Linked DNA regions of Homo sapiens: region 2 is linked to region 1. The links come from fine-mapping of genetic effects on gene expression. A gene starts in region 1. The other region holds a variant in brackets. All regions are shown on one strand. Distances are from middle to middle. Region 1 holds the start of CD163 (CD163 molecule). Region 2 has its middle 52 kb from the start of CD163.

Region 1 (15,709 bases):
AACTCCCCAAAAAAGAAACTACACAACATAGACTCCGAGTTTTATAAACAGCAATTTATTTCTTTGTTTTGGAGGCTGGAAGTTCAAGATCAAGATGCTGTCAGATTCAGTGTCTGGTGAGAGTCCACTTCCAGGGTTATAGATTACCATTTTTTAGCTGTACTTCACACGGCAAAAGGGATCAGTCTTCTCTCAGGGATCTCTTTCATGAGGGCAATAACCCCATTCATGAAGGCAGAGCCCTCATGACCTAATTATCTCCCAAAGGCCCTACCTACTAATACCTTTGAGGTTAGGATTTCAACATATGAATTTTGAGGAGACACAAACATTTAGACCATAGCACTAAGTAATATTTTGTTTAATTCCAGACATTGTAAACTAAACTTCGCTGAGTTTTAAATTATTTTTATTGCTTTAGATATTCTAACGTTTAGTCTAGAATGTTGTTATATTCTTGGAAACAATTTGATTCTTTGGGTCTTGTCTTTAAAATTTGTTAGGTGGGATCTAATCAGCAAGTAGCTAGGGCTACTTATTTCCCACCACTGTGGTAAGACTCATCTGTGAACTCTACCCAATACCCCATGACTTGTGAGTTTTCCATGTGAACAGTCACTTTTCCTGGCCCTGTGTGTAACTCTAATCCTTTCATTATTCTTTCCCCAGGCTCAGGTGATTTGCTCACATGCATGCACTTAACAATACTCAGCTGAATACTCAAAGGGGACTCTACAGATATTCAGCTCTCTCTCCTTGCCTCCTCCCTACTCTCTCTCTCTCTCTCTTTCTTCTTGCAAGTTTCTCCTCTGTGAGACTATTTGCTGTGAATTCTAGCCACCTTAGTCTCCCAGATTCTCAGCTGCTTCTTCCCAACTCTGAGACTCCTCTGATCATTCTCTGGGTTTCCTATTCCATGGTAGCCTGGAAACTATCTCAAGGCAGTAAACTCAGCTTAGCTTCTCATCTCTCATGGATCACTATCTTTGAGATCCAGGCAACAACTCTTCTTGTTGCCTCATTTTCAGTGTCTTGAAAATCATTGTTACACATGTTTGGCTTTGTTTTTAGTTGTTTCTGGTGGGACAGTAAACACACTTCCTGTTTCTTCATTTTGAATAAAAGCAAAAATGTCTTGTTCACCTAGCTTTTTAATTTTGCACCAATCTATTTCTTCCATTTTTCTACTATATCTTTTCAATCGGGCTCTTATTCTATTAGATTTTTGCTATAATATTCACTTGCACTGCATTTAATCTTGCTCTTATTTCCATTTTTACCCTGGCCACCAATCATCCTCAAAGTTGCTACCAAGATGAGATATGTAAAAGACAAAGCAATTTAATACTCATGTTTCAAACTATTTAATGTCATTACTTGCCTACAGTGTAAAATTATAATTCTTTAACATGGTATATAAAACTCCTCTTCATGTAGTCCTTGTTTACCTCAGCAATAATAACAACATTGTCAACAACAACAACAAAATAGGTAATATTGAGCCTAGCATCTGGCAGGGACTGGTAGATATCTTTTTGAAAAAAACACAGTTCCTATCCTGGTATCTTAAGACTAGCAAGTAAGATAAACAATAAATATAAAAATATAATTGGGAGGGGTGGAGCCAAGATGGCCAAATAGGAACAGCTCCGGTCTACAGCTCCCAGTGTGAACAACGCAGAAGACGTGTGATTTCTGCATTTCCATCTGAGGTACTGGGTTCATCTCACTAGGGAGTGCCAGACAGTGGGTGCAGGATAGTGGGTGCAGCGCACTGTGCACAAACCGAAGCAGGGCGAGGCATTGCCTCACTAGAGAAGCGCAAGAGGTCAGGGAGTTCCCTTTCCCAGTCAAAGAAAGGGGTGACAGAGGGCACCTGGAAAATCAGGTCACTCCCACCCTAATACTGCGCTTTTCCAATGGGCTTAAAAAACAGCACACCAGGAGATTATATCCCGCACATGGCTCGGAGGGTCCTACACCCATGGAGTCTCACTGATTGCTAGCACAGCAGTCTGAGATCAAACTGCAAGGCAGCAGCGAAGCTGGGGGAGGGGCGCCTGCCATTGCCCAGGCTCGATTAGGTAAACAAAGCAGCTGGGAACCTCGAACTGGGTGGAGCCCACCACAGCTCAAGGAGGCCTGCCTGCCTCTGTAGGCTCCACCTCTGGGGGCAGGGTACAGACAAACAAAAAGACAGCAGTAACCTCTGCAGACTTAAATGTCCCTGTCTGACAACTTTGAAGAGAGTAGTGGTTCTCCCAGCACGCAGCTGGAGATCTGAGAATGTGCAGACTGCCTCCTAAAGTGGGTCCATGACCCCCGAGCAGCCTAACTGGGAGGCATCCCCCAGTAGGAGCAGACTGACACCTCACATGGCCGGGTGCTCCTCTGAGACAAAACTTCCAGAGGAACAATCAGGCAGCAGCATTTGCAGTTCACCAAGATCCGCTCTTCTACAGCCACTGCTGTTCTGCAGCCACTGCTGCTGATACACAGGCAAACAGGGTCTGGAGTGGACCTCCAGCAAACTCCAACAGACCTGCAGCTGAGGGTCCTGACTGTTAGAAGGAAAACTAACAAACAGAAAGGACATCTGCACCAAAAACCCTTCTGTACATCATCATCATCAAAGACCAAAAGTAGATAAAACCACAAAGATGGGGAAGAAACAGAGCAGAAAAACTGGAAACTCTAAAAAGCAGAGTGCCTCTCCTACTCCGAAGGAATGCAGCTCCTCACCAGCAATGGAACAAAGCTGGATGGAGAATGACTTTGACGAGCTGAGAGAAGAAGTCTTCAGATGATCAAACTACTCCGAGCTACAGGAGGAAATTCAAATCAATGGCAAAGAAGTTAAAAACTGTGAAAAAAAAATAGATGAATGGATAACTAGAATAACCAACGCAGAGAAGTCCTTAAAGGAGCTGATGGAGCTGAAAGCCAAGGCTCAAGAACTACGTGAAGAATGCAGAAGGCTCAGGAGCCAATGCGATCAACTGGAAGAAAGGTTATCAGTGATGGAAGACAAAATGAATGAAATGAAGTGAGAAGGGAAGTTTAGAGAAAAAAGAATAAAAAGAAACAAACAAAGCCTCCAAGAAATATGGGACTATGTGAAAAGACCAAATCTACGTCTGATTGGTGTACCTGAAAGTGATGGGGAGAATGGAACCAAGTTGGAAAACACTCTGCAGGATATTATCCATGAGAACTTCCCCAATCTAGCAAGGCAGGCCAACATACAGATTCAGGAAATACAGAGAACACCACAAAGATACTCCTCGAGAAGAGCAACTCCAAGACACATAATTGTCAGATTCACCAAAGTTGAAATGAAGGAAAAAATGTTAAGGGCAGCCAGAGAGAAAGGTCGGGTTACCCACAAAGGGAAGCCCATCAGACTAACAGCGGATCTCTCGGCAGAAACTCTACAAGCCAGAAGAGAGTGGGGGCCAATATTCAACATTCTTAAAGAAAAGAATTTTCAACCCAGAATTTCATATCCAGCCAAACTAAGCTTCATAAGTGAAGGAGAAATAACTTTATAGACAAGCAAATGCTGAGAGATTTTGTCACCACCAGGCCTGCCCTAAAAGAGCTCCTGAAGGAAGCACTAAACATAGAAAGGAACAACTGGTACCAGCCACTGCCAAAACATGACAAAATGTAAAGACTATCAAGGCTAGGAAGAAACTGCATCAACAGAAATCATAGTAAACTGTCTCTCAGACCACAGTGCAATCAAACTAGAACTCAGGATTAAGAAATTCACTCAAAACTGCTCAACCACATGGAAACTGAACAACCTGCTCCTGAATGACTACTGGGTAAATAATGAAATGAAGGCAGAAATAAAGATGTTCTTTGAAACCAACGAGAACAAAGACACAACATACCAGAATCTTTGGGACACATTCAAAGCAGTGTGTAGAGGGAAATTTATAGCACTAAATACCCACAAGAGAAAGCAGGAAAGATCCAAAATTGACACCCTAACGTCACAATTAAAAGAACTAGAAAAGCAAGAGCAAACACATTCAAAAGCTAGCAGAAGGCAAGAAATAACTAAAATCAGAGCAGAACTGAAGGAAATAGAGACACAAAAAACCTTTCAAAAAATTAATGAATCTGGGAGCTGGTTTTTTGAAAACGTCAACAAAATCGATAGACTGCTAGCAAGACTAATAAAGAAGACAAGAAAGAAGAATCAAATAGACGCAATAAAAATTGATAAAGGGGATATCACCACCGATCCCACAGAAATACAAACTACCATCAGAGAATACTACAAACACCTCTACGCAAATAAACTAGAAAATCTAGAAGAAATGGATAAATTCCTCGACACATACACCCTCCCAAGACTAAGCGAGGAAGAAATTCAATCTCTGAATAGACCAATAACAGGCTCTGAAATTGTGGCAATAATCAATAGCTTACCAACCAAAAAAAGTCCAGGAGCAGGTGGATTCACAGCCAAATTCTACCAGAGGTACAAGGAGGAGTTGGTACCATTCCTTCTGAAACTATTCCAATCAATAGAAAAAGAGGGAATCCTCCCTAACTCATTATTTTATGAGGCCAGCATCATCCTGATACCAAAGCCTGGCAGAGACACAACCAAAAAAGAGAATTTTAGACCAATATCCTTGATGAACATTGATGCAAAAATCCTCGATAAAATACTGGCAAACCAAATCCAGCAGCACATCAAAAAGCTTATCCACCATGATCAAGTGGGCTTCTTCGCTGGGATGCAAGGCTGGTTCAACATACTCAAATCAATAAATGTAATCCAGCATATAAACAGAACCAAAAACAAAAACCACATGATTATCTCAATAGATGCAGAAAAGGCCTTTGACAAAATTCAACAACGCTTCATGCTAAAAACTCTCAATAAATTATTGATGGGACGTATCTCAAAATAATAAGAGCTATCTATGACAAACCCACAGCCAATATCGTACTGAATGGGCAAAAACTGGAAGCATTCCCTTTGAAAACTGGCACAAGACTGGGATGCCCTCTCTCACCACTCCTATTCAAGATAGTGTTAGAAGTTCTGGCCATGGCAATTAGGCAGGAGAAGAAAATAAAGGGTATTCAATTAGGAAAAGAGGAAGTCAAATTGTCCCTGTTTGCAGATGACATGATTGTATATTTAGAAAACCCCATCGTCTCAGCCCAAAATCTCCTTAAGCTGATAAGCAACTTCAGCAAAGTCTCAGGATACAAAATCAATGTACAAAAATCACAAGCATTCTTATACACCAATAACAGACAAACAGAGAGCCAAATCATGAGTGAACTCCCATTCACAATTGCTTCAAAGAGAATAAAATACCTAGGAATCCAACTTACAAGGGATGTGAAGGACCTCTTCAAGGAGAACTACAAACCACTGCTCAATGAAATAAAAGAGGATACCAACAAATGGAAGAACCTTCCATGCTCATGGGTAGGAAGAATCAATATCATGAAAATGGCCATACTGCCCAAGGTAATTTATAGATTCAATGCCATCCCCATCAAGCTACCAATGACTTTCTTCACAGAATTGGAAAAAACTACTTTAAAGTTCATATGGAACCAAAAAAGAGCCCACATCCCCAAGTCAATCCTAAGCCAAAAGAACAAAGCTGGAGGCATCACGCTACCTGACTTCAAACTATACTACAAGGCTACAGTAACCAAAACAGCATGGTACTGGTACCAAAACAGAGATATAGATCAATGGAACAGAACAGAGCCCTCAGAAATAATGCCGCATATCTACAACCATCTGATCTTTGACAAACCTGACAAAAACAAGCAATGGGGAAAGGATTCCCTATTTAATAAATGTTGCTGGGAAAACTGGCTAGCCATATGTAGAAAGCTGAAACTGGATCCCTTCCTTACACCTTATACAAAAATTAATTCAAGATGGATTAAAGACTTACATGTTAGACCTAAAACCATAAAAACCCTAGAAGAAAACCTAGGCAATACCATTCAGGACATAGGCATGGGCAAGGACTTCATATCTAAAACACCAAAAGCAATGGCAACAAAAGCCAAAATAGACAAATGGGATCTAATTAAACTAAAGAGCTTCTGCACAGCAAAAGAAACTACCATCAGAGTGAACAGGAAATCTACAAAATGGGAGAAAATTTTCGCAACCTACTCATCTGACAAAGGGTTAATATCCAGAATCTACAATGACCTCAAACAAATTTACAAGAAAAAAACAAACAACCCCATCAAAAATTGGCGAAGGATATGAACAGATACTTCTCAAAAGAAGACATTTATGCAGCCAAAAAACACATGAAAAAATGCTCATCATCACTGGCCATCAGAGAAATGCAAACCAAAACCACAACGAGATACCATCTCACACCAGTTAGAATGGTGATCATTAAAAAGTCAGGAAACAATAGGTGCTGGAGAGGATGTGGAGAAATAGGCATGCTTTTACACTGTTGGTGGGACTGTAAACTAATTCAACCATTGTGGAAGTCAGTGTGGCAATTCCTCAGGGATCTAGAACTAGAAATACCATTTGACCCAGCCATCCCATTTCTGGGTATATACCCAAAGGATTATAAATCATGCTGCTATAAAGACACATGCACACGTACGTTTATAGCGGCACTACTCGCAATAGCAAAGACTTGGAACCAACCCAAATGTCCATCAATGATAGACTGGATTAAGAAAATGTGGCACATATATACCATGGAATACTATGCAGCCATAAAAAATGATGAGTTCATGTCCTTTGTAGGGACATGGATGAAACTGGAAACCATCATTCTCAGCAAACCATCGCAAGGACAAAAAACCAAACACCACATGTTCTCACTCATAGGTGGGAATTGAACAATGAGAACACATGGACACAGGAAGGGGAACATCCCACTCCAGGGACGGTTGTGGGGTCAGGGGAGGGGGGAGGGATAACATTAGGAGATATACCTAATGCTAAATGACGAGTTAATGGGTGCAGCACACCAGCATTGCACATGTATACATACGTAACAAACCTGCATGTTGTGCACATGTATCCTAAAACTTAAAGTATAATAATAATTTAAAAAAAGGAAAAAAATATATATATAATTGACAACCCTCATAAGTACAGGCTATCATGAGTGCATATTTTCTGGGGTCTTTCAGCGTTAGAGTTATTTCTCCTAGTGAAGGGAGGTTTAACTGAGAAATAAAGTATACGTGAGTGAGAGTTATCTTAGAGAAAGGTACGGGTAGGGAGGCAGTAAACACAGAAGGAACAATATGTATGACATACCATGAGGCAGGGAGAGATTTGGCATGCCTGAGAAGTGGAAGAAAACTGGGGTGCCTTTGTTGACTGGGTTCTAGTGAATGTCTCTCTGGAAGGCTGGAGTTGCTCTTTAATTCCCCATTTCAGGCCCATCACTAACACCTGACAATATGTATGCCATGATGAACTATTAGTAGTTCTTTTGAGCTTATATGTTTTTATATACAAATATTCATTTGTATGTGCTATTTTTTATGCCTTAAACTCCTTTATCATTTGTCCCTTTGGCAATGTTTTTCTCATCTTTTAGGACACAATTTAAGCCTGTCCTCAGAGAAAATAGTTTTCTGACTGTTCATTCCTTTCTCTCAATAGATAGGACTACTTTGTCCATTATTTTTAACACTGCACTTTAGCTTTATGTTCATTGTTGTTATCATATGTGTTTCTCTTACTTGAATCTGAGTTATATAGAGCTAAAATCATGTGTTGCTAATTTTTGTTTCACCATTTGTAATATCAGTAATAGTCATGGCTAATTCTCTTGGTGTACTTCATCCCATTAGAAAAGAAATGACAAATGCTGTGTCTCAACAACTTACACAAAATTACTCATTAGACACATTTGATTATGGAAATAAAATTAAAAGTGCATATGATAAAATGTTATTTAATTATGTTTTGCCTGTTTTGCTTTAGTTTTTTACATAATTTTTCTACATGACAATTAGTAATTTTTTGTGTCTTATATATTTGTCCAAAATGAAGTTCAAAAATGTAAAATATTTAATTCAGCAACAGCAGCATATGAGTTAGTATTTCCTCTAATTTTTCGAAATCTGTGGGAAGTGTTTCCCAATTTCCTTTGGTTGTTTCATGTGCTATATTGAAGAAAACATGAGTATGAAATGGAACCTCAGCTCTTTCAATGACTTCCCTTTTTGAGTTGACTCCGCCTCCATATGTAGCCTTTTCATTTTCATGAAAGTGAAGTGATTTTTAGAATTCTTAGTTGTTTTCTTTAGAAGAACATTTCTAGGGAATAATACAAGAAGATTTAGGAATCATTGAAGTTATAAATCTTTGGAATGAGCAAACTCAGAATGGTGCTACTTGAAGACTCTGGATCTGCTGGTAAAAGCTTCTCATTTATTCTACATTTCCCCTTTAATGGGGTATGTAATTATTATGACAGTCAATGGATGTGATTTAAAAGTGATTGGCATCAGGAGAGTAAGGAGTGGAAAAAGGACATAGGCTTATATGGCAGCACCTTTGATCTGCCATAGATTCAAAATTGAAGATGTGATATGGGAATCAGAGTCGGCATTAATTTTGTAAAACTGCTGAGGTGAAATTAAGTCAGGAACTAAAGTTAACTGAAATGTACTGAGTATGAAAAAATAGTTGTTAGAAAAGATAGAATATGCAGAAAGGAATATTGATAGAGAGTTAATTACATAAAGAAAGTTATCTACTCTGATAAGTGAGTTATCTATTTTAAGACTTATTTGGACATGTTAAAATCATTTAGCATTTTTAGTTTTAAATTAGTGTTGGGTTAGAGTAACGAGAAGATATGAGAGTAATAACAGCATTAAAGAGTGTATTATGTGATAAGGATACAGGTAGAGATGACAAGATTTAATATTTGAGTTTTTCAGATATGGATATCATCACTTAGGTATTGTTCTGCTAGCTACTATTTGGCAAGCATCAAGCCAGGTACTGGTGAAATTATGGTGAACATGATAGATATAATTCGTTTACTCATGGAACTTATCCTCTATCAGTGCGGCTAGGTAGTCTTAAAGATGGGGGCATCCATAATTGAATATCAAGGTGGTTAGGGAATAGAGAAATCTCAGGATACCTTCCCTGTGCCTGCTGGGAGAATTGTCCACTACTAAGTTTCATTGATGTTGTTTCCATTTTCCAGGTTTTAAGGGTTGACCTTGCAATTCTCGTTTCCACCACCAACCTTCTGCTAATCCGTCACCTCTAGGTTGCCTATAAACATGAACATTTTCAAAACCATTTCACTGAAACTATATGAGCCTGGGTATGAATGTTTTCTGCCTGCCTTGCAATTTAGAATGAAGAGTTTTCTGTCTTGGTTTGAGCTTCTTTGTTAATTAACCTCTGAAACCATCTATCTTCTCCAAAGTCTCTTTTTGGGAAGATGCTACTTTTGCCCTCTTTTCTTTTTCACAGACTTCAGAAGACATTTTGTCAACTTGAGTCCCTTCACCATTACTGTGGTCTTACTTCTCAGTGCCTGTTTTGTCACCAGTTCTCTTGGTGAGTACTTTGTCAAATTTACTTACAGCCTTAGCCCACTCTGACAAGAACAGTTAAAAGGCAAACAATTTTTCTGAAGGCCAAGTAGCATCTAAAAACTAGGTGACATGCTCCATGTATTCAAAGGATCAGATATTATTAAAAGCACACAATAAAAATCTAACCAAAATATTAGCATGGTTCCTCACCAAATGAAATAAACTCACAGGAGAGAAATGAATTTTACTTAAAGATTAGAAATAATGTTGAACTGAAAAATAGGAAAGAATACAAAGGAGGAGAAACTTCAGAATCATTAAAACAAAAGTGAATTTGGGAAACACATTAGTAAATTCAAATGCCAAAATTTATCTAAAAATGTATTGAGAGATGCCAGGTTGGTGGGACCAGATTCCTACATAAAGCTAAAATAATGCCAAGGAGGCAACTGAGATCATCTATCATCTGGGGATGGGAAGAGAGTACAAAGAGGTTTATTTTATGGTAGAAAATAGCAGAAAATATCTCCATCTTAATTTTAGATAAGTTTCAGTCTAGCGTTTTTAAGATTTATGCTATTTTACATATACGTATGAAATAAGAGTTAAATTTCTTACAACTAGTCTTTTCATCTTCATAAATTCTCTATCAGCCTTCTTTCTATCGACCTTAGGATTTTGGAGAAATGTAAAAAGTTCATCCCCATAACGTTTTGTAGCATCTTATTTAACTCGAAAATGCTTCACAGGAATTATATAAATTGCCACTATTAAGGCTATCCAGCCATAAAATAAAGCTATTAAACACTATTGTGTTACTTACCTTTACTGGTCATATAGCACTGCTTAATTTGAAACCAGTGATACTGATACTTATATTTGAATGACTGTGAAATAACATTCTTCTGTTTTACCATGGATAGGACTAGGATGGTTCTCAAATCTGAGTTTGAAGGATAAATAAGTAATGTAAAAAAATAATTTTCTACTTGCTCTTTGCGACCTTGGCCAATTACTGTCTTAATCCATTGTTGCAGGAGGAACAGACAAGGAGCTGAGGCTAGTGGATGGTGAAAACAAGTGTAGCGGGAGAGTGGAAGTGAAAGTCCAGGAGGAGTGGGGAACGGTGTGTAATAATGGCTGGAGCATGGAAGCGGTCTCTGTGATTTGTAACCAGCTGGGATGTCCAACTGCTATCAAAGCCCCTGGATGGGCTAATTCCAGTGCAGGTTCTGGACGCATTTGGATGGATCATGTTTCTTGTCGTGGGAATGAGTCAGCTCTTTGGGATTGCAAACATGATGGATGGGGAAAGCATAGTAACTGTACTCACCAACAAGATGCTGGAGTGACCTGCTCAGGTAAGACTTGCATTAGTCAAAGCCTCAACACAAAATCCTTGGTGGGAAAAAAATATGTAGATGGGTTAAAACCTAGAATAAGCCACTTTCCTGTAAGCAATCTAGTTCATGTATAAAAGTACTCCATCCATTGCTAGAAAACCACAAAACACGAGGTCATTTTTTTTTAATAAAAAAAATTCTGAACACTGTGATTAATGAGGAGGTGACTGGCTTCAATTTTATACATGATCTTAGCCAAAAAGCCAAGAAGTGGTGGTTTAAATTTGATATTCAGTAAGCTTACTGTAACCTACTATTCCTATATCATAAAAATATCATGACATCTAAGTTATTTCCTTGTTCTTTCCCAGTGACTTGTTTTGATATGTTGACCCACAAATTATTACCATTTTGTCCATTAACTGATAATCAACTTAGTAAATCAAAAAACAACTATTTCTAGCATTAATACATCATTTCTTGTTGTAGGAAGGATTCTTTGAAAGTATAATTGCTTGACCAGTGTGCAATGCTAGTCATTTCATTTACATTGTGCTTTTAATTTACAAAACATCTCCATATGTTTTATTGCAATTGACCCCACAATAACTGAGAAAGTCATGTGTCAGGCCTTTCTGCTGACAAATCCCAAGGGCACATTTCTGATCCAACTCAGATTCCTGGGATCCCCATTTCTTTTTGTTTGTTTCATTCCTTTTTTTTTTTTTTTTTTTTGGGACGAATTGTCGCTCTTGTCCCCCAGGCTGGAGTGCGATGGCGCTATCTCGGCTCACTGCAACCTCCACCTCCCGGGTTCAAGCAATTCTCCTGCCTCAGTCTCCCGAGTAGCTGGGATTATAGGCACCTGCCACCACACCTGGCTGATTTTTGTATTTTTAGTAGAGACAGGGTTTCACCATATTGGCCAGGCTGGTCTCGAACTCCTGAGCTCAGGTGATCCACCTGCCTCGGCCTCCCAAAATCCTGGGATTACAGGTGTGAGCCACCGTGACTGGCCTGTTTCATTAATTTTTATACAATCCTCTCACCTCCCAGCCTCTCTCTCTCCCATAGGACTGACTATAGAAAGGACTTATCTCTGTCCAGGCATCATGATGTGATAAGAGAAACACACAGTAGCATCTAGAAAAATGCTGAAATAAATTTTCACATAGCTAATATCCTGTGATTTTGTGCAAGTTGTCAAATCTCTCTAAACTTCAGTTTCTGAGGATTCAATGATATAATACATGTAAAACTACTGGTACACTGTTTGGTATGTAACAGGTGCTGAAGATCCTCATGGCTCAGTTCTCTTGGTGACTCAGTTCTCTTTCTTCTTTCTCCGCTTCCTCTTCCTCTTCCTTCTCCTCCTTCTCCTCCTTCTTTCCTCTTATTTTTAACCACTATGGGAGGTGTGAAATGGGGAATAACAAAAGTAACATCTACTGCAAAGTTTAAAATTATCATAAATTTTAGCAGGCTCTTATCATAATTATTGCTGTGTATAGAACTGGCTGTTTAGCTAAAACAGTGTAGTACTTTTAGCTCTTTTTTTCTGTTGTTTTATAACTACCAGTGGAGTTAATCAATTTGCTTTTTGAAATTTATACACTTAAAGCTTTAACCTGAGTCAAATTTAAATAACTTGAGTCGAATTTATCTATTTCTGTACAAAAAAGAGTATTTACATCTGTCCTAGTAATAGATGGAAACAAAACAAAACAGAAAGTTTAAAAACTTTAACCTGTAAACATTTTCCTTTGTAAGTAGATATAGATAAAAATCCTAATTGCTTCCTAGATTTTAACATATTAAAATTCTCTACCGTGTGGAGCTGGGCAATGTCCAAAATCAGGCACCATTTTAAGGACAACATAAAATCCCAAGTGTCCAGAGGAAACTTCTTTTCTAAAATCACTTCTAAATGAATGTAACTTCTGAACTCTGGTCTTTTCTCTGCTCCAGATGGATCCAATTTGGAAATGAGGCTGACGCGTGGAGGGAATATGTGTTCTGGAAGAATAGAGATCAAATTCCAAGGACGGTGGGGAACAGTGTGTGATGATAACTTCAACATAGATCATGCATCTGTCATTTGTAGACAACTTGAATGTGGAAGTGCTGTCAGTTTCTCTGGTTCATCTAATTTTGGAGAAGGCTCTGGACCAATCTGGTTTGATGATCTTATATGCAACGGAAATGAGTCAGCTCTCTGGAACTGCAAACATCAAGGATGGGGAAAGCATAACTGTGATCATGCTGAGGATGCTGGAGTGATTTGCTCAAGTAAGGACTGATCTTGGCTCATTCTATTCTCCAGGAGAGGACAAAAGAAAGGGGTAATAAATCTTAAGAGCCTGAACTCTTAAGAACATAATGAAGTCTGCTTCTTTTGTCACCGCATTTTAACCTAACTTCAGGTTCCAGTTCTGATACCTGTGGACTTTTTACCTTAACTGAAATTAGGAGAAATAGGTTAGGGAAGTGCATAGTGAAACTGAGATCCAGGTCATAAGAAAAGAAGAAAGTGTTTAGGAAAAGCCCATAAAGAAAGGGAGAGACCGAAAAGAAAAAGAGGGGAAAAAGGAAAGAAGGAAGGGCTTTACTAGGATATTTTGCACTATGAAGTTTTATGACCAAACCACTCCAGTTATCATCTAATCCACAAAAGCCTCCTCATTAGCCTCATTAACCCACTCCTTCCCAAATCATTTTTCAAGTTCACAGAATCGAATCACTTGTTAAAAATCAATATTGGTTTCTCATTAAAACTTTATTTATACTAGATATGCATTGTATCTGTCTAGAGACTTTCACGTTGTATACTCAGACTGGGGGCGGGGAAAATCGTTTGTGTGTGCAGAGATACCACTCTTCGTTTTTCTGTTGAATTCTTAGTATAAAAGGAGATTGAGTGTGTCTTGAACCCCAGAGAACACTTAGGAAAATAAGAGTAAAAAATCCCTATCTTCACCAGATCCCTTTCTCTCTCTCTCTCTCTCTCTCTGTGTGTGTGTGTGTGTGTGTGTAAATAAAGGAACTTCCATTCAAACTTGTTTAAAAAGAAGAGAATACTGGCTCACAAAACTGGGAAATCCAGAGGGTATAGTTAGCCTCATGCATGGTTGGATTCAGGTTCTTGAACAATGTCATCTGGGTTCTATCTCTTTCTGCATGTCTTGAACAAGCTTTTTCTTGTTGAACAATGTGATCAGCTATAGCCTGAACCACAATGAATGGAACTCCTACAAGAAAGATAGATTTTGTTAGGTTAAGAATGTGAAGAATTTGGAGTAGAAAAAACACAGACTGTACCTTCCATTCTCTTTTACCCATCAACATTTCTCTAGGCCCCCAGTTAGCACATGCTGACGAATCACAATCCCACAATGAATAACATTGTGGGAATGAAAACGGAAACTGCCAGAGGAAACAACCAGTTTAATTTATTACAGAATATTCTTCAGAATCAACGTCTGTTCTTTGAAGAATATTGATTTGGGGAAGGTGAAAATTGTAGTACTGAAGCCTCCTTTCTCTTTGCTCTGCTTTTAAACTAAGGAAGTGGTCACAACAGGTTCAGGTGTACAACACAGGCTAGGTAGTATCAATGGAGAATGCAGTCAGAGGCAAAAGGGATTGCTAAGTATGGAGGCAAACTGAAGGATGAGGGAGTCACCTAAACACATGCAAATATATTTTAACCAGAAAAAGTAAACAGTTCTAACAAGAACTCTGTGGTGGTCAAATAGCAGGTCTCTAGATGAAATTCAGTCCCTGTATCTCCTGTTAGAAACACTTCCTGTAGTATATGCTGTCTATACTGAGATGTCCCATCTTCTTGCCTGATCCACTCCTCCTTCCATCTTGAATGATTTCCAGTGGTAGTACAGTACATCACAGTTTTCTCTGTCTCCACTTATATCTCTCCCCTTTTCCTTAACTCATCTCAGGTATAGCTATTTATAGTCTCATGTTCTTGCTTCCTTATCGCAGACCTGTTGTGTGTCTCTGTTACAGAGGGAGCAGATCTGAGCCTGAGACTGGTAGATGGAGTCACTGAATGTTCAGGAAGATTAGAAGTGAGATTCCAAGGAGAATGGGGGACAATATGTGATGACGGCTGGGACAGTTACGATGCTGCTGTGGCATGCAAGCAACTGGGATGTCCAACTGCCGTCACAGCCATTGGTCGAGTTAACGCCAGTAAGGGATTTGGACACATCTGGCTTGACAGCGTTTCTTGCCAGGGACATGAACCTGCTATCTGGCAATGTAAACACCATGAATGGGGAAAGCATTATTGCAATCACAATGAAGATGCTGGCGTGACATGTTCTGGTAAGTTAAAACCAAACCAAAACCAAAACACTAAACAAAAAGAAAAGCAGAAACGGAAAGTCCTGTGCTCCTTAAGAGTAGGAACGTGCTCCTTAAGAAGTAGAAATGCCTAGTAAATTCCTTGCTGGGAATTCCTTTATACCTGTAATCTTTGACACATTCTTTATTCAACTAGTTTGGAAGGTTGTCTGACGGCATTCTCTGTAATAATTACTCAGACTGCTTTTATGGAGCACACTTCAAACTCAGAATCTACCTGGAGCTCAGAGAGACAAAATTTCCTAGGAATCTGTTTTTAAATTTTTTTAATTTACTTATTTTTTTACTTTAAGTTCTGGGATAGATGTGTTGAATGTGCAGGTTTGTTACATGGGTAAACATGTTCCATGGTGGTCTGCTTCACGTATCAACCTGTCATCTAGGTTTTAACCCCCCATGCATTAGGTATTTGTCCTAATGCTCTCCCT
Region 2 (15,709 bases), 52 kb before region 1:
TGTCAGGTTTGTCAAAGATCAGATGGTTGTAGACGTGTGGTATTATTTCTGAGGGCTCTGTTCTGTTCCATTGGTCTATATCTCTGTTTTGGTACCAGTACCATGCTGTTTTGGTTACCGTAGCCTTGTAGTATAGTTTGAAGTCAGGTAGCGTGATGCCTCCAGCTTTGTTCTTTTGGCTTAGGGTTGTCTTGGCAATGCGGGCTCTTTTTTGGTTCCATATAAACTTTAAAGTAGTTTTTTCTAATTCTGTGAAGAAAGTCATTGGTAGCTTGATGGGGATGGCATTGAATCTATAAATTACCTTGGGCAGTATGGCCATTTTCACGATATTGATTTTTCCTATCCATGAGCATGGAATGTTATTCCATTTGTTTGTGTCCTCTTTTATTTCATTGAGCAGTGGTTTGTAGTTCTCCTTGAAGAGGTCCTTCACATCCCTTGTAAGATGTATTCCTAGGTGTTTTATTCTCTTTGAAGCAATTGTGAATGGGAGTTCACTCATGATTTGGCTGTTTGTTATTGGTGTATAGGAATGCTTGTGATTTTTGCACACTGATTTTGTATCCTGAGACTTTGCTGAAGGTGCTTATCAGCTTAAGGAGATTTTGGGCTAAGACAATAAGGTTTTCTAAATATACAATCCTGTCATCTGCAAACAGGGGCAATTTGACTTCTTGTTTTCCTAATCGAACACCCTTTATTTCTTTCTTCTGCCTGATTGCCCTGGCCAGAACTTCCAACACTATGTTGAATAGGAGTGGTGAGAGAGGGCATCCGTGTCTTGTGCCAGTTTTCAAAGGGAATTCTTCCAGTTTTTGCCCATTCAGTATGATATTGGCTGTGGGTTTGCCATAAATAGCTCTTATTATTTTGAGATACGTCCCATCAATACCTAGTTTATTGAGAGTTTTTAGCATGAAAGGCTGTTGAATTTTGTCAAAGGCCTTTTCTGCATCTATTGAGATAATCATGTGTTTTTTGTCTTTGGTTCTGTTTATGTGATGGATGACGTTTATTGATTTGTGTATGTTGAACCAGCCTTGCATCCCAGGGATGAAGCCCACCTGATCATGGTGGATAAGCTTTTTGATGTGCTGCTGGTTTCCATTTGCCAGTATTTTATTGAGGATTTTTGCATCGATGTTCATCAGGGTTATTGGTCTAAAATTCTCTTTTTTTGTTGTGTCTCTGCCAGGCTTTGGTATCAGGATGATGCTGGCTTCACAAAATGAGTTAGGGAGGATTCCCTCTTTTTCTATTGATTGGAATAGTTTCAGAAGTAATGATACCAGCTCCTCTTTGTATCTCCGGTAGAATTCGGCTGTGAATCTGTCTGATCCTGGACTTTTTTTGGTTGGTAGGCTATTAATTATTGCCTCAATTTCAGAGCCTGTTATTGGTCTGTTCCAGGATTCAACTTCTTCCTAGTTTAAGTCTTGGGAGGGTGTTATGTGTTCAGGAATTTATCCATTTCTTCTAGATTTTCTAGTTCATCTGCATAGAGGTGTTTATAGTATTCTCTGATGGTAGTTTGTGTTTCTGTGGGATCAGTGGTGATAGCCCCTTTATCATTTTTTATTGCATCTATATGATTCTTCTCTCTTTTCTTCTTTATTCATCTTGCTAGTGGCCTATTTTGTTAATCTTTTAAAAAAAAACAGCTCTGGGATTCATTGATTTTTTGAAGGGTTTTTTGTGTCTCTATCTCCTTCAGTTCTGCTCTGATCTTAATTATTTCTTGCCTTCTCCTAGCTTTTGAATATGTTTTCTCTTGCTTCTCTATTCTTTTAATTGTGATGTTAGGGTGTCAATTTTAGATCTTTCCTGCTTTCTCTTGTGGGCATTTAGTACTATAAATTTCCCTCTACACACTGCTTTAAATGTGTCCCAGAGATTCTGGTATGTTGTGTCTTTGTTCTCATTGGTTTCAAAGAACATCTTTATTTCTGCCTTCATTTTGTTATGTACCCAGTAGTCATTCAGGAGCAGGTTGTTCAGTTTCCGTGTAGTTGAGCAGTTTTGAGTGAGTTTCTTTTTTTTTTTTTTTTTTTGAGACGGAGTCTCGCTCTGTCGCCCAGGCCGGACTGCAGACTGCAGTGGCGCAATCTCGGCTCACTGCAAGCTCCGCTTCCCGGGTTCACGCCATTCTCCTGCCTCAGCCTCCCGAGTAGCTGGGACTACAGGCGCCCGCCACCGCGCCCAGCTAATTTTTTGTATTTTTAGTAGAGACGGGGTTTCACCTTGTTAGCCAGGATGGTCTCGATCTCCTGACCTCATGATCCACCCGCCTCGGCCTCCCAAAGTGCTGGGATTACAGGCGTGAGCCACCGCGCCTGGCCTTGAGTGAGTTTCTTAATCCTGAGTTCTAGTTTGATTGCACTGTGGTCTGAGAGACAGTTTGCTATGATTTCTGTTATTTTACATTTGCTGAGGAGTGCTTTACTTCCAACTATGTGGTCAATTTTGGAATAAGTGCAATGTGGTGCTGAGAAGAATGTATATTCTGTTGATTTGGGGTGGAGAGTTCTGTAGATGTCTATTAGGTCTGCTTGGTGCAGAGTTGAGTTCAAGACCTGGATATCCTTGTTAACTTTTTGTCTCATTGATCTGTCTAATGTTGACAGTGAGGTGTTAAAGTCTCTCATCATTATTGTGTGGGAGTCTAAGTCTCTTTGTAGGTCTCTAAAGACTTTCTTTATGAATCTGGGTGCTCCTGTATTGGGTGCATATATATTTAGGATAGTTAGCTCTTCTTGTTGAATTGATCTCTTTACCATTATGTAATGGCCTTCTTTGTCTGGTTTTGATCTTTGTTGGTTTAAAGTCTGTTTTATCAGAGAGTAGGATTGCAACCCCTGCTTTTTTTTGTTTTCCATTTGCTTGGTAGATCTTCCTCCATCCCTTTATTTTGAGCCTATGTGTGTCTCTGCACGTGAGATGGATCTCCTGAAAGCAGCACACTGATGGGTCTTGACTGTTTATCTAATTTGCCAGTCTGTGTCTTTTAATTGGGGCATTTAGCCTATTTACTTTTAAGGTTAATATTGTTATGTGTGAATTTGATCCTGTCATTATGATGTTAGCTGGTTATTTTGCTCGTTAGTTGATGCAGTTTATTCCTAGAATTGATGTTGTTTACAATTTGTCATGTTTTTGCAGTGGCTGGTACTGGTTGTTCCTGTCCATTTTTAGTGTTTTCTCCAGGAGCTCTTGTAAGGTAGGCATGATGGTGACAAAATCTCTCAGCATTTGCTTGTCTGTAAAAGATTTTATTTCTCCTTCACTTATGAAACTTTCTTTGGCCGAATATGAAATTCTGGGTTGAAAATTCTTTCTTTAAGAATGTTGAATATTGGCCCCCACTCTCTTCTGGCTTGTAGGGTTTCTGCAGAAAGATCTGCCTTAGTCTGATGGGCTTCCCTTTGCAGGCAACCTGACCTTTCTCTCTGGCTGCCCTTAACATTTTTCGCATTAGCCAGGTGGCTATTTGGGGAACAATATTCAAGGAAAAGGGAACAGCCAATGCAAAAGCCCTAAATCAGGACTAAAAGTGGGGTGCTTGAGAACAGCAAGATGGCCAGTGTGGGTGGATATTAATAGATAGGGAAATAGTCAAAGAAGATTCAGAGAGGTGAGGAGAGTGGTGGTAGTCGTGGGGTGAGCTGGTTACTTCCCTATAGACTGGCCATTTTAAGTAACAGCTTTTATTCTGAATGAGATAGGGACCCTTTGAAGGGTTTTGAATTAACCAGTAACATGATCTGACATAAAATTTAAAAAGTTTACCCTGGTTATCTTGATGAGAATAGATACTTAGGAAAGGCAAAAGTAGTTAGGAGGCTGGAGTGGGATTCCAGGCAGGGGATGATGGTGACCCTGATCAGGATGATGTCAATGGATGTAGATGTATTTTGGAAGTGGTGCAAATGGGATTTCCTGAAGAATTGGATATGGAACATGGAAGTAAGAGAGGGATCAAGGATGACCCCGAGAATTTTGCCCTGAACACTGAAAATTGGTGGTGTTGCCATTAACATCCTTTTCATGTATGTGACAGGATCTATATTGGTAATACATGGATTTTACCCATTTATATCTTGTAATGTCTAATTATACTTAGATTAACAAAGTTCTTCCAAGAGATTTTACTTTCTGTTTCAGGTTGCCTTTTTAATTTTGTTTATGGAGTGGAGAAAGGATTAAAGCTGAGCTCCAATCTGAATTAGAATCAGTCCCCAGAAATACCCCATTCAGACTTACATAGCCATCCATCTTGGCATATTTCTTGAATTGTTGCTCATACTGGCTCTCTAACAATTTTTCTCCCAGCATCTAAGTCACATTCTTGATTTGATGGTCAAAATGATAGATGTCATTTGTCCTGTTCATAAAAACTGTCACAGAATAATAAGCCACTTTTCTTCAATAACAAATGTCTTTTTAACTTACCTGCCACATTTTTCCTTTTTATCAACTGACTTTTGTTATTATTGTTGGGCACTCGTTTTTCTGCCTACTTGTATGTCGAATTTATTGGTAAGACATGAAATGTATGAATGATTCTTCTCTTTTCTTATCCATTCTCTGAAGATTTTTACTTTCTTTTTTCAGTGCCTCCCCATAATGCCAGACACCTGAGGATTAGCTTTTTCAGAATAATCTCAAATTCATATTGAACTCTAAAACACTTGTGTACCCAAAAACTTGTGTACCAGTATTTGTAACCACATTGAAGATCCCTCTGATCTTCTCCAACCTATTTGCTTGGCAGAAAATCTGGAAGTCATCTACACCACTCCATTAGTGCCTGCATCCATTAACCAAATTTATTTACTTCTTTATTCTAATATCTATTAACTGTCTTCTCTTAATGTGCCCTTGCATTAATTCAGGCCCTTATCATTTTTCTTGAATTACTCCTGTACCACATACCACAAAACATTACTGATTTATAAGCTGTTCCTAGTTACTTCAACATTTAGGAATTGCAGAAGACATGTTTAGGGGCTCTTTTGTTTGGGAGAACTCCTCAATTACCCTCGATTATGCCAGGTGTTAAAACACTTAGCCAAAACTAGGGGGAAAAGCTCTGCAAAATAAAGCAAAATGATTATTTTTTATTGGTGTTGAGGTTACTATATATTAAATAATGACAGATTATTATATTTTTACTTGTAGGGGCCATGGTAAATATGTAATAACAGAGAGAGACCTCTGCTTTGAGTAGAAGCAAGTCCCAGAAACATGAGAAGGTTGGGGCTAAAAAGGGAGTTGTTGGTTCTCCACTAAAGAACCTCTATAACAGGGCAGTATTAATGGTCACAGGGCAAGGATTATCTGATATTCACTTTTAAGTTTTCTGTTTTCTCTTGCTTTCCTAATGAATTCTTTAAATCTTCATGAAAGGTTATTAGCAGCAATATTAGGAAGAAAAATGTATAAGAGAACAGAGGTGGTCCTAGAGAAGGGAGAAGGGATACTTTGAGAAGTGACCAAATCATGTAAACATTCACGGGAGAGTTTTGGAGATTCTAGGCAGAAGGACTGAGTTCTCTGCAGGACCACAGGATAAGGACTCAAATTACAGATAATTTACTATTAAACTGAAGACTTTTGTTGTTGTTGTTTTGGTTTGTTGTTGTGTTATTCTTGGTGGTGGGTTTTTTTTTTTTTTTTTTTTGAGACAGGCTCTTGCTCTGTCACTTAGGCTGGAGTGCAGTGGCACAATTATGATTCACTGCAGCCTTGAACTCCTGGGTTCAAGCAATCTTCCCACCTCAGCTGCCTAAATAGCTAGGACTACAGGCACACAGCACCACACCTGGCTAATTTTTCTATATTTTGTAGAGATGGGGTCTCACTGTATTGGCCAGGCTGATCTCAAACTTCTGGCCTCAGCAATCCTCCTGCCTTGGCCTCCCAAAATGCTGGGATTACAGTGAGCCACTGTGCCCAGCTAAACTAAAGATTAACTTTAGATATCGGGAGATTTCATAACCACTTGGAATACACACTTTGCTTTTCATTTTATTTTTTATTCTCCTTCTGGTTGTCTTTCTGTGTTTCAAACGTAACCATATTCCCCTGATAAATTACACATAGGGAGCCATATGCTATTTTAAAAAGTTATTTCTTTACTTTTAATATAAAATAAAATATATAGTACAGGTCAGTCAGAAATAAGTAAAGTATAATTCAATTTTTATCATTTCAGACCTTTTAATATATATATAGATATATGTAAAAATATAAATATGTGTAGGTATTTGTAAAATGTAATTATATATTTTAATGTTCTGCAACCTTCCTTTCTAACTTATAAAATAATACTGATTTTCTATATCAGCACCTAGAGTGTCATTATCATTTTTAATAGCTGCATAATAGTCTGTTGAATTGATGTCCTAAATTTTATTGAAAATTTTATTCTCTTATTGGATACACATTTATTTCAAAATTTTCACTACTATAAATAACTCTGCATATGTATCTTGTTCACTTGCTTCCTTAGGATCGATGCCTATTAATAAATTCTTAAATATTTTTGAATTAAGGATTTAATAATAATCACATGGGGAAAATCTATGCTTTGTACATTTTGTACTCAATTTTTATTGTGGATGTAAAAGGCTGAGGTTTTCAGCAAGTAACTGGATGTACTGTTTCTGGGTTTTGCAAGCAGCTGCCTTTAAAAAAGGGAAGCACATTACGCTCTTCCTTTAAAAA[A/T]CCGTTATGAAAACACTCATCTCTATGCTCATAAGCTTTAAAGAAACTTAACAAGGATGACCATAAATCTCACATACCACTTTTGGAATTTAATAGAAAGAATAAATTTGGTTGTTATCTGACATATTACTCCTTTTTTTTTCTACAGAGAATAGGAGAAAAGATTCTATACTATAAATAAGTGGTAACATTCTTCCATCTGGAGCATTGACAATAAAGAAATGATACAAATATTTCTGAAGCCCACTACATTCTCTTTGCCCATTTGTACTGGCACTTTTACTCTGGATTTAAGTTTTGCTTAGAGTTTACATTTTTTTTCTTCAGACTAAATGAAAGTTTCTGGTCTCTGAGATTGTGTTCTTCATGATGAAAATTCATTGTGCAATTTGCTTTTCTTTGCCATAAAGTTTTCTGGGATCTTTTTATAAAGAGTTTTCTAATCCTATCAGAATATGTTTAAATGGAAAGGAAAATGGGCATGGAGTCAAAGTGTCACTGTTTCAATCCTTGTTCTTCTACATAATACAATGTTGAGTACAGCATTTAACTTATTTAAGCCTCAGTTTTCTTATCTGCAAGATGCAGAAATTATTAATGATTTTATAAAGTGCCTGGCAAGATGAAAGGAGGCCATGTGCCTGAAAATGCACAGCATATGCCCTGGGTAAAGAATGGGTCCTCTGCGATTGTTAGTAGACAGGATTGGCTTGACTTCTGCAAAGGCCTTAGTTTTCTTTATTTTTTTCTTTTATATGTTAGAATTTGGTATTTGTGCTTCTTTGCTCCTGAAGCTATATTTTCCTTTTTCATGTTTAATATCTTATTATTATTATTATTTTGACAGAGTCTCACTCCGTCGCCCAGGCTGGAGTGCAGTGGCGTGATCTCAGCTCACTGCAACCTCCGCTTCCAGGGTTCAAGCTGTTCTCCTGCCTCAGCCTCCGGAGTAGCTGGGATTTACAGGCATGCGCCATCACACTCGGCTAATTTTTGTATTTTTAGTAGAGACGGGGTTTCACCATGTTGGCCAGGCTGGTCTCAAACTCCTGACCTCAGGCGATCCGCCCGCCTTGGCCTCCCAAAGTGCTGGAATTATAGGCGTGAGCCACCGCGCCCAGCCCTAATATCTGATTTTTAAAGTGACTTCTTAATTTTTAAAGGTCTAATTTTTTATAACTTTGATACATAGTTTCTAGACTTTATGATTTTGAAGAAGTAAAAAGACTTCTGCAATTCCCGTTTTCTCTCCTGAATATTCTTTCACTTTTGCCATTATTGAAATTACAAACTTACGGTGGCAATCCTGCTTTCTTATACAAGCATAGCACCAGCATTTTGATGAACCAAGAGGTGTGACATTTTGTCCTATATTTTTGCCTGATCACTACAACTGGGCTCCACTCCTGCCTCATATCCTGTTTCTATTTTTAACACTAAAGGAAACATTCTCATGTCCTAAGCAGTCTCTGTAATCTGATCAGTCTGTGCTTTCCCCCGACTTCAGTCATTCTAATTTCGTCACTATTTACTGGACCTACTTTTTAAATAGTCTTTATATCCTGCTTTGTTGTTCTTTTAACTTTAAATTCTTGGATTTAAAGTGCATTGAAGATTGAACTTCTTATTGTGTGCCACTTGGACCATGAAATAATTCAGTTACTAAAGCCAAAAAAAAACCCAAAGCAACAACAAAAAAAACCCACCATGGTTTAGAAGACACTTTTGGAAATGCAGTGAAACCACCATTTGAGAGGGACTCTGAGGGCAATTTATAATGTAATACTATCCCCTGCTTAAATACCTACAGGTTTTTTTTTTCTGTATCACTTATTTACTTATATAAGTATTTAAAATAAGAATATCTGACATTATTGAACTGGAATTTGTTGTGAACCTTCAATTAGAGTACCAAGAGCAGAGTTAATAGGTTCTTTTTTATATATATTCATAATATCATTCTTTGTGTAAATCTCATAACATCATTTGTAATTGCCTAGTCTCCAAATAAGATAGTAAATTCTTTTTTTATTTTTTATTTTTTATTTTTCTTTTTTTAAATTTCATTATTATTATACTTTAAGTTTTAGGGTACATGTGCACAACGTGCAGGTTTGTTACATAGGTATACATGTGCCATGCTGGTGTGCTGCACCCATTAACTCGTCATTTAGCATTAGGTATATCTCCTAATGCTATCCCTCCCCCCTTCCCCCACCGCACAACAGTCCCCGGTGTGTGATGTTCCCCTTCCTCTGTCCATGTGTTCTCATTGTTCAATTCCCACCTATGAGTGAGAACATGTGGTGTTTGATTTTTTGTCTTTGCGATAGTTTGCTGAGAATGATGGTTTCCTGCTTCATCCATGTCCCTGCAAAGGACATGAACTCATCATTTTTTATGGCTGCATAGTATTCCATGGTATATATGTGCCACATTTTCTTAATCCAGTCTATCATTGTTGGACATTTAGGTTGGTTCCAAGTCTTTGCTATTGTGAATAGTGCCGCTATAAACGTACGTGTGCATGTGTCTTTATAGCAGCATGATTTATAATCCTTTGGGCATATACCCAGTAATAGGATGGCTGGGTCAAATGGTATTTCTAATTCTAGATCCCTGAGGAATTGCCACACTGACTTCCACAATGGTTGAACTAGTTTACAGTCCCACCAACAGTGTAAAAGCATTCCTATTTCTCCACATCCTCTCCAGCACCTGTTGTTTCCTGACTTTTTAATGATCGCCATTCTAACTGGTGTGAGATGGTATCTCCTTGTGGTTTTGATTTGCGTTTCTCTGATGGCCAGTGACGATGAGCATTTTTTCATGTGTTTTTTGGCTGCATAAATGTCTTCTTTTGAGAAGTGTCTGTTCATATCCTTTGCCCACTTTTTGATGGGGTTGTTTTTTTCTTGTAAATTTGTTTGAGTTCATTGTAGATTCCGGATATTAGCCCTTTGTCAGATGAGCAGGTTGCAAAAATTTTCTCCCATTCTGTAGGTTACCTGTTCACTCTGATGGTAGTTTCTTTTGCTGTGCAGAAGCTCTTTAGTTTAATTAGATCCCATTGGTCTATTTTGGCTTTTGTTGCCATTGCTTTTGGTGTTTTAGACATGAAGTTCTTGCCCATGCCTATGTCCTGAATGGTATTGCCTAGGTTTTCTTCTAGGGTTTTTATGGTTTTAGGTCTAACATGTCAGTCTTTAATCCATCTTGAATTAATTTTTGTATAAGATGTAAGGAAGGGATCCAGTTTCAGCTTTCTACATATGGCTAGCCAGTTTTCCCAGCACCATTTATTAAATAGGGAATCCTTTCCCCATTGCTCGTTTTTGTCAGGTTTGTCAAAGATCAGATAGCTGTAGATATGCCACATTATTTCTGAGGGCTCTGTTCTGTTCCATTGGTCTATATCTCTGTTTTGGTACCAGTAGCATGCTGTTTTTGTTACTGTTACCTTGTAGTATAGTTTGAAGTCAGGTAGCGTGATGCCTCCAGCTTTGTTCTTTTGGCTTAGGATTGACTTGGCAATGCGGGCTCTTTTTTGGTTCCATATGAACTTTAAAGTAGTTTTTTCCAATTCTGTGAAGAAAGTCATTGGTAGCTTGATGGGGATGGCATTGAATCTATAAATTACCTTGGGCAGTATGGCCATTTTCATGATATTGATTCTTCCTACCCATGAGCATGGAATGTTCTTCCATTTGTTGGTATCCTCTTTTATTTCATTGAGCAGTGGTTTGTAGTTCTCCTTGAAGAGGTCCTTCACATCCCTTGTAAGTTGGATTCCTAGGTATTTTATTCTCTTTGAAGCAATTGTGAATGGGAGTTCACTCATGATTTGGCTCTCTGTTTGTCTGTTATTGGTGTATAAGAATGCTTGTGATTTTTGTACGTTGATTTTGTATCCTGAGACTTTGCTGAAGTTGCTTATCAGCTTGAGGAGATTTTGGGCTGAGATGATGGAGTTTTCTAGATATACAATCATGTCATCTGCAAACAGGGACAATTTGACTTCCTCTTTTCCTAATTGAATACCCTTTATTTCCTTCTCCTGCCTGATTGCCCTGGCCAGAACTTCCAACACTATGTTGAAAAGGAGTGGTGAGAGAGGGCATCCCAGTCTTGTGCCAGTTTTCAAAGGGAATGCTTCCAGTTTTTCCCATTCAGGATGATATTGGCTGTGGGTTTGTCATAGATAGCTCTTATTATTTTGAAATACGTCCCATCAATAATTTATTGAGAGTTTTTAGCATGAAGCGTTGTTGAATTTTGTCAAAGGCCTTTCCTGCATCTATTGAGATAATCATGTGGTTTTTGTCTTTGGTTCTGTTTATATGCTGGATTACATTTATCGATTTGGGTATGTTGAACTAGCCTTGCATCCCAGGGATGAAGCCCACTTGATCATGGTGGATAAGCTTTTCGATGTGCTGCTGGATTCGGTTTGCAAGTATTTTATTGAGGATTTTTGCATCAATGTTCATCAAGGATATTGGTCTAAAATTCTCTTTTTTGGTTGTGTCTCTGCCAGGCTTTGGTATCAGGATGATGCTGGCCTCATAAAATAATGAGTTAGGGAGGATTCCCTCTTTTTCTATTGATTGGAATAGTTTCAGAAGTAATGGTACCAGCTCCTCTTTGTACCTCTGGTAGAATTCGGCTGTGAATCCGTCTGGTTCTGGACTTTTTTTGGTTGGTAAGCTATTGATTATTGCCTCAATTTCAGAGCCTGTTATTGGTCTATTCAGATATTCAACTTCTTCCTGGTTTAGTCTTGGGTGGATGTATGTGTCCAGGAATTTATCCATTTCTTCTAGATTTTCTAGTTTATTTGCATAGAGGTATTTATAGTATTCTCTGATGGTAGTTTGTATTTCTGTGGGATCATTCGTGATATCCCCTTTATCATTTTTTATCGCATCTATTTGATTCTTCTCTCTTTTCTTCTTTATTAGTCTTGCTAGTGGTCTATCAATTTTGTTGATCTTTTCAAAAAACCAGCTCCTGGATTCATTAATTTTTTGAAGGGTTTTTTGTGTCTGTATTTCCTTCAGTTCTGCTCTGATCTTAGTTATTTCTTGCCTTCTGCTAGCTTTTGAATGTGTTTGCTCTTGCTTTTCTAGTTCTTTTAATTGTGATGTTAGGGTGTCAATTTTAGATCTTTCCTGCTTTCTCTTGTGGGCATTTAGTGCTATAAATTTCCCTCTACACAGTGCTTTGAATGTGTCCTGGAGATTCTGGTATGTTGTATCTTTGTTCTCATTGGTTTCAAAGAACATCTTTATTTCTGTCTTCATTTCATTATTTACCCAGTAGTCATTCAGGAGCAGGTTGTTCAGTTTCCATGTGGTTGAGTGGTTTTGAGTGAGTTTTTTTAATCCTGAGTTCTAGTTTGATTGCACTGTGGTCTGAGAGACAGTTTGTTATAATTTTTGTTCTTTTACATTTGCTGAGGAGTGCTTTACTTCCAACTATGTGGTCAATTTTGGAGTAGGTGTGGTGTGGTGCTGAAAAGAATGTATATTCTTTTGATCTGGGGTGGAGAGTTCTGTAGATGTCTATTAGGTCTGCTTGATGCACGGCTGAGTTCAGTTCCTGGGTATCCTTGTTAATTGTCTGTCTCGTTGATCTGTCTAATGTTGACAGTGGGGTGTTAAATTCTCCCATTATTATTGTGTGGGAGTCTAAGTTTCTTTGTAGGTCACTAAGGACTTGCTTTATGAATCTGGGTGCTCCTGTATTGGGTGCATATATATTTAGGATAGTTAGCTCTTCTTGTTGAATTGATCCCTTTACCATTATGTAATTGCCTTCTTTGTCTGTTTTGATCTTTGCTGGTTTAAAGTCTGTTTTATCAGAGACTAGGATTGCAACCTCTGCCTTTTTGTGTTTTCCATTTGCTTGGTAGATCTTCCTCCATCCCTTTATTTTGAGCCTATGTGTGTCTCTGCACATGAGATGGGTCTCCTGAAAGCAGCACACTGATGGGTCTTGACTCTTTATCCAATTTGCCAGTCTGTGTCTTTTAATTGGAGCATTTAGCCCATTTACATTTAAAGTTAATATTGTTATGTGTGAATTTGATCTTGTCATTATGATGTTAGCTGGTTATTTTGCTCATTAGTTGATGCAGTTTCTTCCTAGAATTGATGTTCTTTACAATTTGGCACGTTTTTGCAGTGGCTGGTACCACTTGTTCCTTTCCATGTTTAGTGGTTCCTTCAGGAGCTCTTTTAGGGCAGGCCTGGTGGTGACAAAATCTCTCAGCATTTGCTTGTCTGTAAAGTATTTTATTTCTCCCTCACTTATGAAGCTTAGTTTGGCTGGATATGAAATTCTGGGTTGAAAATTCTTTTCTTTCAGAATGTTCAATATTGGTCACCACTCTCTTCTGGCTTGTAGAGTTTCTGCTGAGAGATCAGCTGTTAGTCTGATGGGCTTCCCTTTGTGGGTAACCCAACCTTTCTCTCTGGCTGCCTTTAACATTTTTTCCTTCATTTCAACTTTGGTGAATCTGACAATTATGTGTCTTGGAGTTGCTCTTCTCAAGGAGTATCTTCTAAACTATAAGGTTTCCTACATTCTCAGGACTAAGATTTAGTGCTTTGGGGAGTTAATGATAATATAAGCCTCAAATATAATTGGAGATTTAAAAGGTGTTTTCTTTTTTTCTTTCTTTTTAAAAGAAAAAGAGTTTATTTGGCTCACAATTCTCATGGTGGCCAGAAACCTTGAGCATCTTCATCTGATGACAGCCTCAAGCTACTTCTGCTCATGGGGGAAGGCTAAGGAGAGCAGTGTGAAGAGATCACATGGTGAGAGAGGAAGAAAACAGGCAGGCAGGTTCAGCCTCTTTTTTTTTTTTAATTTTTACTTTTTGTGGGTACATAGTATGTGTATATATTTATGGGGTGCATGAGATATTTTGATACAGCCATACAATGCATGATAAACATAACAAGATATATGGAATATCCATCACCTCAAGCATTTACCATTTCTTTTTTTTTTTTTTTTACTTTTTATATGGACTTTTTTACTTAGTAATATACACTTAAAGTTTCTCTATGTTTTCCATAACTTGGTAACACATTTCTTTTAAGTGCTGATAAAATTCCAATGATTGAATATATCCAAGTCCCTTTATTCATTCACCTACTAATACAATTCCATTGATTGAATGTACCCGAGTTCATTTATACATTCATCTAGGACATTTTGTATGCCTCTAAATTTTGGCAGTGATGACTAGAGCTGCTATAAACATCCATGTGCAGGTTTTGCATAGACTTAAATTTTCTTGTTTTCTTTCTTTTTTAATACTTTAAGTTCTAGGGTACATGTGCACAATGTGCAGGTTTGTTACATAGGTATACATGTGCCATGTTGGTTTGCTGCATCCATCAACTCATCATTTACATTAGGTATTTCTCCTAATGCTATCCCTCCCCCAGACCCCCAACCCCTGACAGGCCCTGGTGTGTGATGTTTCCTGCCCTGTGTCCAAGTGATCTCATTGTTCAACTCCCACATATGAGTGAGAACATGTGGTGTTTGGTTTTCTGTCCTTGTGATGTTTGCTGAGAATGATGGTTTCCAGCTTCATCCATGTCCCTGCAAAGGACATGAAACCATCCTTTTTTACAGCTGCATAGTATTCCATGGTGTATATATGCCACATTTTCTTAATCCAGTCTATCATTGATGAACATTTGGGTTGGTTCCAAGTCTTTGCTATTGTGAATAGTGCTGCAATAAACATATGTGTGCATGTGTCTTTGTAGTATCATGATTTATAATCCTTTGGGTATATACACAGTAATGGGATCACTGGGTCAAACGGTATTTCTAGTTCTAGATCCTTGAGGAATCACCACACTATCTTCTACAATGGTTGAACTAATTTACACTCCCACCAAAAGTGTAAAAGTGTTCCTATTTCTCTACATCCTGTGCAGCACCTGTTGTTTCCTGACTTTTTACTGATTGTCATTCTAACCGGCATGAGAGGGTATCTCATCGTGGTTTTGATTTGCATTTCTCTGATGACGAGTGATGAGGAGTATTTTTTCATATGCCTGCTGGCTGCATAAATGTCTTCTTTTGAGAAGTGTCTGTTCATATCCTTGGCCCACTTTTTGATGGGGTTGTTTGTTTTTTTCTTGTAAATTTGTTCAAGTTTCTTGTAGATTCTGGATATTAGCCCTTTGTCAGATGGGTACATTGAAAGATTTTCTCTCATTCTGTACATTGCCTGTTCACTCTGATGGTAGTTTCTTTTGCTGTGCAGAAGCTCTTTAATTAGATTCCATTTGTCAATTTTGGCTTTTGTTGCCATTGCTTTTGGTGTTTTAGTCATGAAGCCTTTGTCCATGCCTATGTCCTGAATGGTATTACTTAGATTTTCTTCTATGGTTTTCATGATTTTAGGTCTTACATTTAAGTCTTTAGTCCATCTTGAGTTAATTTTTTTGTATGGTGTAAGGAAAGGATCCAGTTTCAGCTTTCTACATGTGGCTAGCCAGTTTTCCCAGCATCACTTATTAAATAGGGAATCCTTTCCCCATTGCTTGTTTTTGTCAGGTTTGTCAAGGATCTGATGGTTGTAGATGTGTGGTGTTATTTCTGAGGCCTCTGTTCTGTTCCATTGGTCTATATATCCGTTTTGGTACCAGTACAATGCTCTTTTCGTTACTGTAGCCTTGTAGTATAGTTTGAAGTCAAGTAGCATGATGCCTCCAGCTTTGTTCTTTTTGCTTGGGGTTGTCTTGGCTATGCGGGCTGTTTTTTGGTTCCATACGAACTTTAAAGTAGTTTTTTTTTTTAATTTTATGAAGAAAGTCAGTGGTAGCTTGATGGGGATAGGATTGAATCTATAAATTACCTGGGGCTGTATGGCCATTTTCACGATATTGATTTTTCCTATCCATGAGCATGGAATGTTCTTCCATTTGTTTTTGTCCTCTTTTATTTC

What was found. PIP is the estimated chance that this variant, and not a neighbour inherited with it, causes the effect.
Region 2: its variant is fine-mapped to the expression of CD163 in whole blood (TOPMed, PIP 0.98).

What each region holds. Positions count from the first base shown.
Region 1 is chr12:7,496,346-7,512,054 of GRCh38, reverse strand. CD163 (CD163 molecule) reads left to right here and starts at 8,278. Exons shown (of 17, transcript NM_203416.4): 1 at 8,278-8,410; 2 at 9,491-9,577; 3 at 10,593-10,916; 4 at 12,867-13,187; 5 at 14,922-15,242. The coding sequence starts at 8,365. RefSeq lists an enhancer at 14,006-14,507.
Region 2 is chr12:7,548,421-7,564,129 of GRCh38, reverse strand. No RefSeq gene overlaps it. Among named protein-coding and RNA genes, the nearest start is that of CD163, 52 kb to the right of the region's middle. RefSeq lists a silencer at 6,590-6,790. The variant A/T (reference allele first, on the strand shown) is at 6,730.